Homo sapiens: one gene and its partners. The protein of the gene in region 1 interacts with the protein of each later gene in a pairwise test. Each region holds a gene or a part of one and is shown in the gene's direction. Other genes may lie near its edges. The genes, in order: ERN1, PELI3 and BAHD1.

The links.
Region 2: the proteins of ERN1 (region 1) and PELI3 interact in binary tests that used the Homo sapiens proteins (3 or more experiments, as listed by UniProt).
Region 3: the proteins of ERN1 (region 1) and BAHD1 interact in binary tests that used the Homo sapiens proteins (3 or more experiments, as listed by UniProt).

Annotation. Positions count from the first base shown.
Region 1 is NC_000017.11:64,046,490-64,050,234, reverse strand, and holds part of ERN1 (serine/threonine-protein kinase/endoribonuclease IRE1 precursor), read left to right. Parts: intron 1-1,032; coding exon 1,033-1,180; intron 1,181-2,249; coding exon 2,250-2,377; intron 2,378-3,745. UniProt on the Homo sapiens protein: Serine/threonine-protein kinase and endoribonuclease that acts as a key sensor for the endoplasmic reticulum unfolded protein response (UPR).
Region 2 is NC_000011.10:66,464,974-66,468,718, forward strand, and holds the start of PELI3 (E3 ubiquitin-protein ligase pellino homolog 3), read left to right. Parts: upstream 1-1,931; 5' UTR 1,932-2,054; intron 2,055-2,156; exon of another isoform or gene 2,157-2,585; intron 2,586-3,154; 5' UTR 3,155-3,155; coding exon 3,156-3,307; intron 3,308-3,745. UniProt on the Homo sapiens protein: E3 ubiquitin ligase catalyzing the covalent attachment of ubiquitin moieties onto substrate proteins. Involved in the TLR and IL-1 signaling pathways via interaction with the complex containing IRAK kinases and TRAF6.
Region 3 is NC_000015.10:40,457,840-40,461,584, forward strand, and holds part of BAHD1 (bromo adjacent homology domain-containing 1 protein), read left to right. Parts: intron 1-611; coding exon of another isoform or gene 612-625; coding exon 626-2,057; intron 2,058-3,745.

The DNA of each region.
Region 1 (3,745 bases):
TCCTGTCCCGAATCCAGCACCTTCCTAAGGGAAAATCCAGTGAGGTAGAATAAAGCATGGTAGGTTTGGAGATTGGAAGACCTGAGTCCCATCCTGGTTTATCACATCCAGCAGTGACCCTGAGCTTGTCATGCAACCTTTCTGTCCACGTTCTCATCTGGGGATGAAAGCATTTGCTCTGCTCGCCTCACAAGGTTGTTGTGAGGCTGAATGAGAGTGCTGTGTTGTTCAAGGTGTGTCTCCTCCAGCATGGGAGGTGATGAGCCCCTGCTTCCTCACACTAGACCCTCACTTCACCTGGTGGAGAATCTCAGAGGCAGGGCCTACTAACAGGGACCCAAGCTGTGCTCAGGAACCACCTTGGTATTACACCCCAGGTAGCATGAGCTAAAAAACACAAACGTACATTTCCCTCGAAGGAAGCTATTCTGTAGACACAGAATGGTTTCATGGGATAAGTGAGAGGCTTTCTCGGATTAACATCAAACATGACCTCCTTGGTAACTTGTCAGATAGTTTCTTTCTAGGGCTGTTTTTGAATCATAAGCTGTTTTATTCACTTATTAGCAATTTTGATACCTACTGTGTGCAGGCACCATTCTGGGCCCTGGGGGTACAGCAGGGAAGCAACGACACAGAGACCCTGTCTGTGAGCACTTTCGTGTTGGGGGTAAGGAATATATAACAGCCAGGAGGGCTTTTGATGGGCCAAGCACTGTCGTAAGCAACCATTTTTGCATATTAATGCATCTCTTTTGACAACAGCCCCATGCTGTCAGTGTCCTCATCTCACATGAGAGGGAACCAGGGGCTTCCAGGTGGCTCCAAGCCCAGGTTCTCCACTGGGACCTCTGACACCCATGCAGTGCTGCAGGTTAGCCCTCGCTGCTCTGTGCAGCTCACATATGTCAGCTGATTCTCCCAGGACACCTTCTAGGTGGCAGAAGCAGCAGCAATGCTCCTCCCTCCCTGACTGTGAGTGAGGATGAAAACTCTGCTCCCAGACCTCTCACGCCTCATGTCTCTTTTCAGACCTACACGGTGGACATCTTTTCTGCAGGCTGCGTCTTTTACTACGTAATCTCTGAGGGCAGCCACCCTTTTGGCAAGTCCCTGCAGCGGCAGGCCAACATCCTCCTGGGTGCCTGCAGCCTTGACTGCTTGCACCCAGAGAAGCACGGTGAGCGGTCCAGGGGTTGGGGTTGGGAGCAGCTCCTCAGCTGCCTCAGGTGGCCCTGCAGAGCTGGGCTGGTGCCACCTTTGCACTCACAGAGGCCGTGGTGCCCCAGCTGCTCACCCCGCAGGCCTCAGGACCTCCAGACTTGTGCCAAATCTGGTAGAGGGTTGGTAGGGTTATCTCTGGGGCGCCACCTTCTAAAGCTGAGATGCTCCAAGGTTCCTCCAGGTCACCAACTACTTGTGTGACCTAGGCAAAGCCCCCTTTGGAGACCTTCTTTTTCTACCTGGTGACATGAGGGTTGAATAATCAGAGGTCCCTTCCTGCACTGGCATTTGGGAAGACAAATTGTCTTCTCTCTTGGGATGGCGAGTGGTCAGTAGGTGCAGTCTGTGCTGGGCTGGGGACAGACAAGCTTTATCCTCACCCTCCTGGTCTCCTGGTATGGGTGCAACAAGTCTTTCTTCCAGACTTCAGGTTTTCCTGGGTGGTAATTGGCCCATGACACTCCAGTGCTGCCTTTTGAAAAAATTACAACTAAATTATTGTTTTGTTTATGCTTAATTTTTCTTATTATAGAAAACACAGATTAGCATAAAGGCCCATATATTCCCATTATACAGGGATGAATGATGGCTATTGATACCTTTGCATATACGTTATTCCAGTCATTTATCTAGACGTGATTGCATATTTTATAAAAATACAGTTAAATCCTGCATACTGTTTTGCAGCATGCACGTTTTTCAGCGTCACCTTGAATCTCTCTCCACGTCAATCCATATTTAGTCACAGCCGCACTTTAACAGCTCATGGCCCAGCGTAGGGAGGCACCGTAGTGTATCCACTTGGGCCTCTGATACTGGATGTTTACAGTCACTTCCTTCACAAACCATGCAGTGAGGACTCACCTCTTTGGCTGAGGTTTTGTGTCTGTTCCTAATTATTTTATTGGAATAAATTCCTGTAAATAGAATCATAAATGAGAGGGTGTGCAGCTTTTTAAAGTTTTTGGTATTTCACTGTGGCTTTGGACTGGTAGTCATGAGTTGCTTATTTTCCTCCTTTATAGAAGACGTCATTGCACGTGAATTGATAGAGAAGATGATTGCGATGGATCCTCAGAAACGCCCCTCAGCGAAGCATGTGCTCAAACACCCGTTCTTCTGGAGCCTAGAGAAGCAGCTCCAGTTCTTCCAGGTAGAGACGTCTGTTCTCTTTATCCAGAGTCTTCATTTAATGTTTTTCAGATTTTGAAAATACAGAAAAGGACAAAGAATAAAATAAATTGCCCATTACCCTAAAACTGGAAGATAATCATGGCTGATGTTTTAATGTTTTCTTCATATATAAAAGTATAATTGGGATCTAACCGTATATACAGTTTCAGAATCCCTTTTTTTAACTGTACATGATATTTTAAGTTTCTTTCATGTTAAAGTTCTAAAATTCCAATGACCATAGTATTCTATCATATGGATGTGCCATAATGGTTAAGCTTTATATTATGGAATTTCCAAATATATAATACATAAATGTTTAAATGCTATAATGAGCACTCCTTTATTCATCCCTCAGGTTCAATAAATATTAACCTTCACCCTCTCCCCACCCCAGGTTATTTCGAAGTAAATCTCAGGCATCATATAATTTCATTCAAGTGTCATAAGCTTATTTATTTATTTTTATTTTTTTTGAGACAGCGTTTCACTCCGTTACCCAGGCTGGAGTACAGTGGTGCAATCTTGGCTCACTGCAACCTCTGCCTCCCGGGTTCAAGTGATTCTCCTGCCTCAGCTTCCTGAGTAGCTGGGATTACAGATATGCACCACCACGCCTGCCTAAGTTTTTTTGTATTTTTAGTAGAGATGGGGTTTCACCATGTTGGCCAGGCTGGTCTTGAACTCCGGACCTCAGGTGATCTGCCCGCCTCAGCCTCCCAAAGTGCTGGGATTACAGGCATGAGCCACCAGGCCCAGCCCAAGTGTCATAAATTTCAGTGCTTTCTTATATTGTATTTGTTTCTATCATCTTTTACACAGTCTTGGCCCAGATCTCCTTTTGCTTAAAATAGGTTCTGCAAAGTTAGAACTCCTTTGGTGATTTGACTGTTTTAAAGCTTTGTGACAATGTCAGGTGACTTTTGAAGAGGTAATGTGTTTTTCAAAGTCTTCCATGTATGAATTGAACATAACTCACCCGAACGCCTCCTGCCCAGCACGTGGCTCTGAAAGCAGGCTTGTGGGGCAGTGCTTTTCCCCTTGGGTCCAGGCAGAGTGCAGCTTGGTGGGCACCGTACTGAGAAGTGACCATCATGCTCTCCTGGGGTCTGACTGGGGCCTTGGCCAGAGGGAAGCCCCCAGAATGTAAGCTCCTCGAGGACAGGAGTGCTTGACTGCTGCATTCACTACTGTGTCCCTGCCTCCTAGGGAGGACGCTGCCTGGCCCAACCATTCAGATGGATCGGGTTGGGAAGAGTTTAATGCTGTCTTCCATGTTGTAGCATATGGATTGGTCACTGTGTCCATGGACATAATGTGAAAATTCTCAAGTCCATATGTCTTCCAG
Region 2 (3,745 bases), on another chromosome or scaffold:
GGGCAATCCTGGTGTCGGGCCCACCTCAGCCTCCCTGAGGCCTGATGGTCTGGCTGTGCCACCATGCAGCTCCAATCCCAGTACTGCCCCAGGAGAAATCCCTGCCTCCTCCTCCAGTGAGTCTTGGTGATCCCTCTCAGACCTTCCTCCATGCAGTCCAGTGTCAGGTGGAAGCACTGGGGCTCCTGTGAAGCATCAGCTCCACATCTGCCTGGCTTGTGACCTGGGGCAAGTTTCTTCTTCTGCCTGAGCCTCAGCTTCCTGGTGTGTAAATTGGGGATTATAACAGGGATTCAGTATATATTCACTGAGGACCTGCTCTGGCAGGCAATGCATTAAAAGCTGGGGGTACACAAGGGAGTGAGGCTGTCCCAGGGTCCCCGTGCACACCCAGCACAATGGACGCCTCTGGTGGCATCAGTGAGGGCAGCTATCCTGTGTCACAGGGTTTGTGTGACCTGCAGCCAGCAGCCCAGCGGTCTGGTGGTGTCCTGCTTGGTGGAAGTCTCGCAGGGAGATTCTCTGTGACTAACGAGTGTCTTTTCCCCTAAAGGATGTGCCGTCGGCTGCTTTCTTGTTTCATCTAGCCGCTGGGCCCCAGAACAGTTGGCAAAGCAGTTGGTATCTTTGGCTATTTTTAGGTGGAGGAGTTAGCGGGGTGGATATAGTAGGGCCCCAGGGGAGTCTGGTAGATGGGGAACTTCAGGTGCAACAAGTTTGTGGGGGTGGGAGTGGCAGCGGCTCCCTCTCAGGAATGTTTAGGCAAACTAAACATGCATCCTTCATAATGGAAGTCAAAAGCCACCTCCTCTGTGCAGTCTTCCTTGATTTTCTCATTAAACACCCCCACCGCCCCCCACAAGACCAAAGACTTGATCTGGAACTATAATCCAGCCTTTATAGTTCCAGACCAAGAGTACTGAGCAATAGGGACCTTACCTGATGCAGACAAGGTTTCTCTTCTGCACCTCTGAGGCTCCATCCCTAGTCAGAACGACAAGGTACGAAGTTAGGAGTTGAGACTGAAGCCACTCATACAGCTGAGATTCTCTCTTGGCCCGTTTCTAGCAAACTACAACAAGCAAGTCACTTTTGTAAATCTATTTCCTCATCTGTAAAATGGGCAACTATCGTGCCTGCCTCCCAGGATTAAAGTAAAGGGTTTAATTTGCTCAAAGCACAGCGCACAGCGCCTAACGTAGACTGATAGATCTCTCGCAAGCCCCAGGCCCAGAAGGGGCGGTGCTCCCCCAAAACTCTCTTTCCTTTGCAGCACAGCGGGGGGTGTGTGCATCCTGGCGGAGGGGAGGGGACTGAGGGGAGGGGAATGGGGGGTGCCCGAGCTGGGCTGGAAGACAGGTCTGCGACTCTGGTCAACTGCAGCTGCTTTCCCCGGCCTCCACCGCTGCCGCACACCCCCTTTGCCTTTAGCATTTTCCTCCTCTCCTCTAATTGCGTGGCGTCCCCAGATGGTAGGCGGGGTGTCGGAGCTGGGGGTGCGTAGTCCCGGGCCTAAGGCTAGGGAAGGGGCCTCCAGCGCCGTGTGAGGGCCCTGACCGACAGTGGGGAGGGGCGCCCATGTCTCTGGGAGAACCCCGGAGTCCCCGGAAATGGAGGCGGAGTTTGGGGAGTCTGAAATGGGGGAGGGGTCGTGTAGACTACGGGGGAGTCCTGAGCCGGCTAGGAGGGGCAAGGGAGTCCCTCAGACGGAGTGGAGAGCGGGGCTTCCCTGGTCAGAGGGCGGTACCAGGGGAAGGGCGTGGTCTCCTGCGAAGGGGCGGAGCTCCGCCTACGAAGGCTGAGCATCGCCGCAAGAGGCGGAGTCTGGAGCGAGGCGGAGCTCTCCTAGGGGCGGGGAAAATGGGGCGGGGCCTCCGGACAGGGGGCGGAGCGTGGCTGTTCGCGCTCATCCCCCTCCCCCGGCCCTGGGTGTCCCCGTGACGAGGCAGCGCGGAGCCGCCGCGGGCCGGGCCCATCCCGCCGCAGCGGCCCGGGGCCGAGCAGGGGCTAGGCGGGGAGGGAGCGGCGCCCAGCGGGGCCCGGAGCGTGGCCAGGTGAGGCCGCCGGGGCGGAGGGGGCGGGGGCTGCGCCAGGCGGGCCCCGGCGGGCGCGGGGGGCGTGTTTGCGTGTCTGGGGGTGGTGGAGGGAGTGGGTCCGAGGGCGGGCGCCGGTGGCTGCTGCGCGCCCGCGCGTCCCTGCGGTCGCGGGTGCGGGTGGTCTCTGCGCCGTCCGGGCCCGGGGCGTGCGGGGCCGTGCACGCGCGCGTGTTGTGCGGAGGGGCCGCCGGGTGTGGACCTGCGTAGGTGCTGGGCCGCGGTTCCCGTTCTGCCCGCCCGGGGCGCAGGGCGCGGGCCTGCCCCGGCGCGGTCCCTCTGGCGCGGGGATGTTTTCCAAACGGGCTGCCTGCGGGAGACGGCTGTGCTGCAGCCCGAGCTCGAGGGGGGAGCGCCGCCTCCGCAGGCCTCCTGAGACCCGGGCGGCTGGGGACGCAGACAGACACCTGAGGGAGGGAAGAGCGCGCACCCAGGAGGAGTCTATTGGCCTACCCGCAGGGGGAGGCCGAGATGGGGAGACTGAGGCAGATGGTGAGGCGGAGGCGGGCAGACAGGCAGAGATGGGGAATGGGGGGAGAGAGACGGCAAAAAGGACAGCGGCTGGGAGGACAGAGAGTCATTGAGAAAGCAGATGGACAGACAGAGGCCTAGACCTCAAAGGGGCAAGAAAGATTCAGATGGACAGGTAGATTCAAAGAACCTGTCAGAGAGGCTAAATCAGAGGTCCAGAGGCTAAGAGCTATAAGCAGGAACTGAGTCTGAGATGAGGGGTAACGGCCCCCAACTCATTGGGTGCCCCGCTTTGAAGCACATCCCAGACTGGGATCTTGGCCAAAAAGCAGCCTCTGGCCACCCCAAGTTGGTCCATCTCTTTGGCACCACTGAATATCCTGACTCTCTTCACTGTGCCACCCCTCCCTGGTATCCCAGCAACCTCGGGCAGTTTAGAGGAGGCAGAGGGGAAGTGGTTGCCATAGCAGTAGAGGCGGTGAAAGGTCACCCTTGCCTTAGCCTAGGCGGCCCTGCAGCAGGCTGCAGCTGGAATTGAGCCGGGCTGGGGTGGGAACCTACAAAGCTCTTTTCTCTCCCACTCTGCCCAGAATGGTGCTGGAAGGAAACCCTGAAGTGGGGTCCCCCCGAACCTCAGACCTCCAGCACCGGGGGAACAAGGGCTCTTGCGTTCTCTCCTCTCCCGGTGAAGATGCGCAGCCAGGCGAGGAGCCCATCAAGTATGGTGAACTCATCGTCCTGGGGTGAGCATCCCTGGCCTAGAAGGGGTGAAGCACCAGACACCCACCCAACGCAGCCAGAACAAGGGCCCGACCCCTCCTCCCCCCACATAGGGCCTTCAGCTGTTTGTCCCTCCTCACCTTCCTAGCTGAAAGACAAAATTGACCAAACCCACCTCAATTCATAATTATTATTTTATCTTCCCATTTTTCACAAAGTACTGTGACAACTCTAACCACCCAACTTCCTGATCAGATGAGAAAAATGTTAACACCAGCTGCCTTTCCTAAAGCACCTAGTGTGTGTGGTGTGGGGTGAAGAACTCTGGTTCTCCAGCAAAACTGCTTGGTTCAAATCCTGCCTCTGCAAGTTGCTGAACTTCCCTGTGCCTCTGTTTCCCCTGTTTTGCAAATGGGGATGATAATAATCCCTTCCTCAGAGGGTTGTTGGAAGAAATGAAT
Region 3 (3,745 bases), on another chromosome or scaffold:
TCTACTAAAAATACAAAAGAAAATTTAGCGGGGCGTGGTGGCGGGCACCTGTAGTCCCAGCTACCCGAGAGGCTGAGGCAGGAGAATGGCGTGAACCTGGGAGGCGGAGCTTGCAGTGAGCCAAGATCTCACCAATGCACTCCAGCGAGACTCCGTCTCTCAAAAAAAGAAAAAAAGAAGAAAGAATAAATGGACTTCTACCACCCAGTCCCCCATCTTGGGAGGCTCTGTCTTCAGAGCCTCTTCCTATCCTGTGATGAATATCTAGTGAGAGAAGGACAGGGGGAGAGAACAAAGAGCTTTGCCACCAGCTCCTCCTATCCCCTGTCCCTGGGGTCTGCCTTGCTCCCTAGGCTCTTCAGGGGCTTAGTTCAGAGATACCCTAGGCTAAAAGGAAAGAGGAGGAACCAGTCCTTGCACAGCTGCTGGTAGCTTGATTCCACTGCCCCTTCACACTCTGGAAAGGGAGTCCCAGGAAAATCCATACTGGAGACAGGGTAGTTGTAGGCCAGGATCACTGCACCTGGGGCTGGGTAGGCTGCAGTGGGAGAGAAAGCAGGCAGGAGCAGGCCAGAGAGGGCTTCTCTCATTGCCCACCTTCTGTCCTGCAGGTTGGAAGTACTCCATGACACACACTCGGAGAAAGTCCCTTCCCATGCTGAGTTCGGGCCTCACTGGCCGCCGAGAGCCCCTGCAGATGGAAGACAGCAACATGGAGCAGGGGGTTGAGGGTGTGGAGCCAGGCATGCCCGAGAGCCCAGGTCACCTCACAGGGCGCCGCAAGAATTACCCACTTCGTAAGCGCCCATTGGTTCCTGAGAAGCCCAAGGCCTGCAAAGTGCTGCTGACTCGCCTGGAGAATGTGGCCGGTCCCCGGAGTGCAGATGAGGCTGATGAGCTACCGCCTGACCTGCCCAAGCCCCCCAGCCCGGCCCCATCCAGTGAAGACCCTGGCCTTGCCCAGCCCCGCAAGCGGCGCCTGGCCTCCCTCAATGCTGAAGCTCTCAATAACCTGCTGCTGGAGCGAGAGGACACCAGCAGCCTGGCAGGCACCCGCCGCAGTCGAGCAGGGGATCCCCACCGCAGCCGTGACCGTGATCGTGCTACTGGGGGCTGGTCCTCCTCCAAGAAGCGGCCCCGGCTGGGGGACCTTGGAGGAGGAAGTCGGGACCTGTCTCCAGAGCCAGCACCCGATGAAGGTCCCCGCCGAGATGGAGACCCAGCTCCCAAGAGACTGGCTAGCCTGAACGCAGCTGCTTTCCTAAAACTGAGCCAGGAGCGGGAGCTACCCCTGCGGCTGCCTCGTGCCCATGCAGAAGTAGATGGGCGCTCCACTGAGCCCCCAGCACCCAAGGCCCCGAGGCCAAAGTGGCCCAAGGTCAATGGCAAGAACTATCCCAAGGCTTGGCAGGGGGCCAGCTCTGGGGAGGCTGCAGGCCCACCTGGCTGGCAAGGCTGCCCTGATGAACCATGGCCATCTGCAACTCCTTGTGGGCCATCCGTCCAGCCATCTCATCAGCCCCTGAGCAAGGCTCTGGAGAGCCCTTTGGGGCTGCGCCCTCACCTGCCCCTGCTGATGGGTGGACAGGCGGCTCTGAAGCCGGAGCCTGGGCGCCCAGGCGAGGAGTCACCTGCCCCTAAGCAGGAACTGCATCAGCCCTCTTTCCCCACACCTCAGCTGTCGCCGCTGCCGATGCCTGGCAACCCCGCCGACTACAATGGCCTGTGTGTTGGGCCTGAGCTCACTGCACTAGGCAGCTTCTACCTGTACTGTGGCCAAGAGGGGCTGCAGTGTGGGGGCTACTCGCCCTGCCCCATGCTTCCTGAGGGCAAGCTGTCCCCAGTGGCTGCACCTCACGAGGAGGGGCTCCTCTTAGCTCCGAGCTCAGTGCCCTCAGGCACCCCTTTCCAGCACCCTCCCTGGGGCTCCTCTCGCTACTGCTCTAGCGAGGACACTGGAGTGAATGGCTACAGCATCTGCGGAGTGTTGCCCCTGTCTGTTACCCACGCTGGCACTACCTGTGGCGGCTGCCCATACAAAATGCCTTTTGCAGCAGGTGAGGCTTCCTGGGCCCAAGATGTACTGGGGAGTCTCGGAGACATGGCATCCCAGGAGGTTGGGCTGTTGATCTGAGCAGGGGTCTCCCTTGGGGTCTGGCTGCTAACTGGAAGGTAGGGGGCTTTCAGAAGTGAGAACTCCCGTAGTCTGTGCCCCAAGCCGAGGAGCATTCCCAAGAACAGGGCCCGTATAGCTCTGGACAGCCTTGCTCTGCCCAGGCTACCTTTGGAGATTCTTGGCCTGGCAGTTAGGTAGCATTGCAGTGGTACAGGCCACAGGAAGGCCTCTCTTCTCTCCTCATTGGGATACCCGTTCTTAGACTCTGAAGAGCAGGTTAGATATTGGAATTAGGACTTTTACCAAATTGTTCTCACGGCCCTTCTACCCTCCTTGAGGAAAGCTAGAATTCCCTAGTTTCTAGAAACCAGTACTCTCTGCATGCTGGCCAAGTTCAGCATTCATGGGAAAGGTGGTAGGTACCAGGCTCAGTAGGTGGTACCTACTGCACAGGGCAGCTTTGCCCTGGCTATAGAGGCATTGAAAGAGAAGTGCCCAGACTGAGCATCACTTTGCTGGGTGTGGATAGAGAGGGTGCACCATGAGAACAGACAAGCAGAGTTCCCTGACATGGATGGAATGCGATCAGGGCCCACAGCTTTGGTGTCTGCCTGCCTGACAAGACCCAGACACCTGAGAGGCCCATGCTCCGGCTGTTGAGACACTCCCAGAATCATTTCTCTTCCCTAAACTGGCAGAGGTATCCTCACCTGCCTCTTCAGGCTCCCTGCCTGCCTCCTGGGTGGAAATGAGACATGCTGGCCAGCAGGTCTGCCCTGCTGCTGGGGAGGTGAGGGCTGGACCTTCCAGATCTCCCTTCCCCTGACATCCTTTCTTGTAGGGGTCTATAAAACAACTTTATAGACCAGTTGGCCCTGGCCAGACTGGTTGTTTCAGGTTGTGGCTTGAGTTAGAGTTCTTATGACATGAGAACAGGCTGCTGCTTGGGGTTTTCCTTCTTTTTTTGTGCCATTCCCCAAGTCTAGACCCTTATCCCCTCTCCCTAATAATAAGGACACCAGTAAACACCATGTACCAGGCACTGTTCTGAGTGCTTTACATATGGGAGGCTGCTTGGCATGTAATTGAGCACAGACTCCGAAGCCAGACTGCCTGGAGTGAAATGTTCTCCCCCACTTTCCTAGCCATGTGACTATGGGCGAGTCAGTAACTGCTCTGTGTCTCAGTTTTCTTAACTATAAAATGGGTGTAATGATACCTATCTCACAGGGTTTTTGTAAGGATGAAATGAGTTAATGTGTTCGTAAGAAAACCAGCCAGTTGCTCTGAGGGGCAGAGTGACTTGCCTGAAGTCACATGGCTAGTAAGTGGCAGAACCCAGGCTGATTCTAGAACCCCTATTCCCAAGCATTATGAAAGCCTTAGAAAATTAATATCAGGGCCAGGCGCGGTGGCTCATGCCTGTAATCCTAGCACTTTGGGAGGCTGAGGCGGGCAGATTGCCTGAGCTCAGTAGGTTGAGACCAGCCTGTCTAACATGGTGAAACCCTATCTCTACTAAACATACAAAAAAATTAGCTGGGTGTGGTGATGGGCACCTGTAATCCCAGCTACTCAGGAGGCTGAGGCAGGAGAAATGCTTGAACCCGAGAGGCGGAGGTTGCAGTG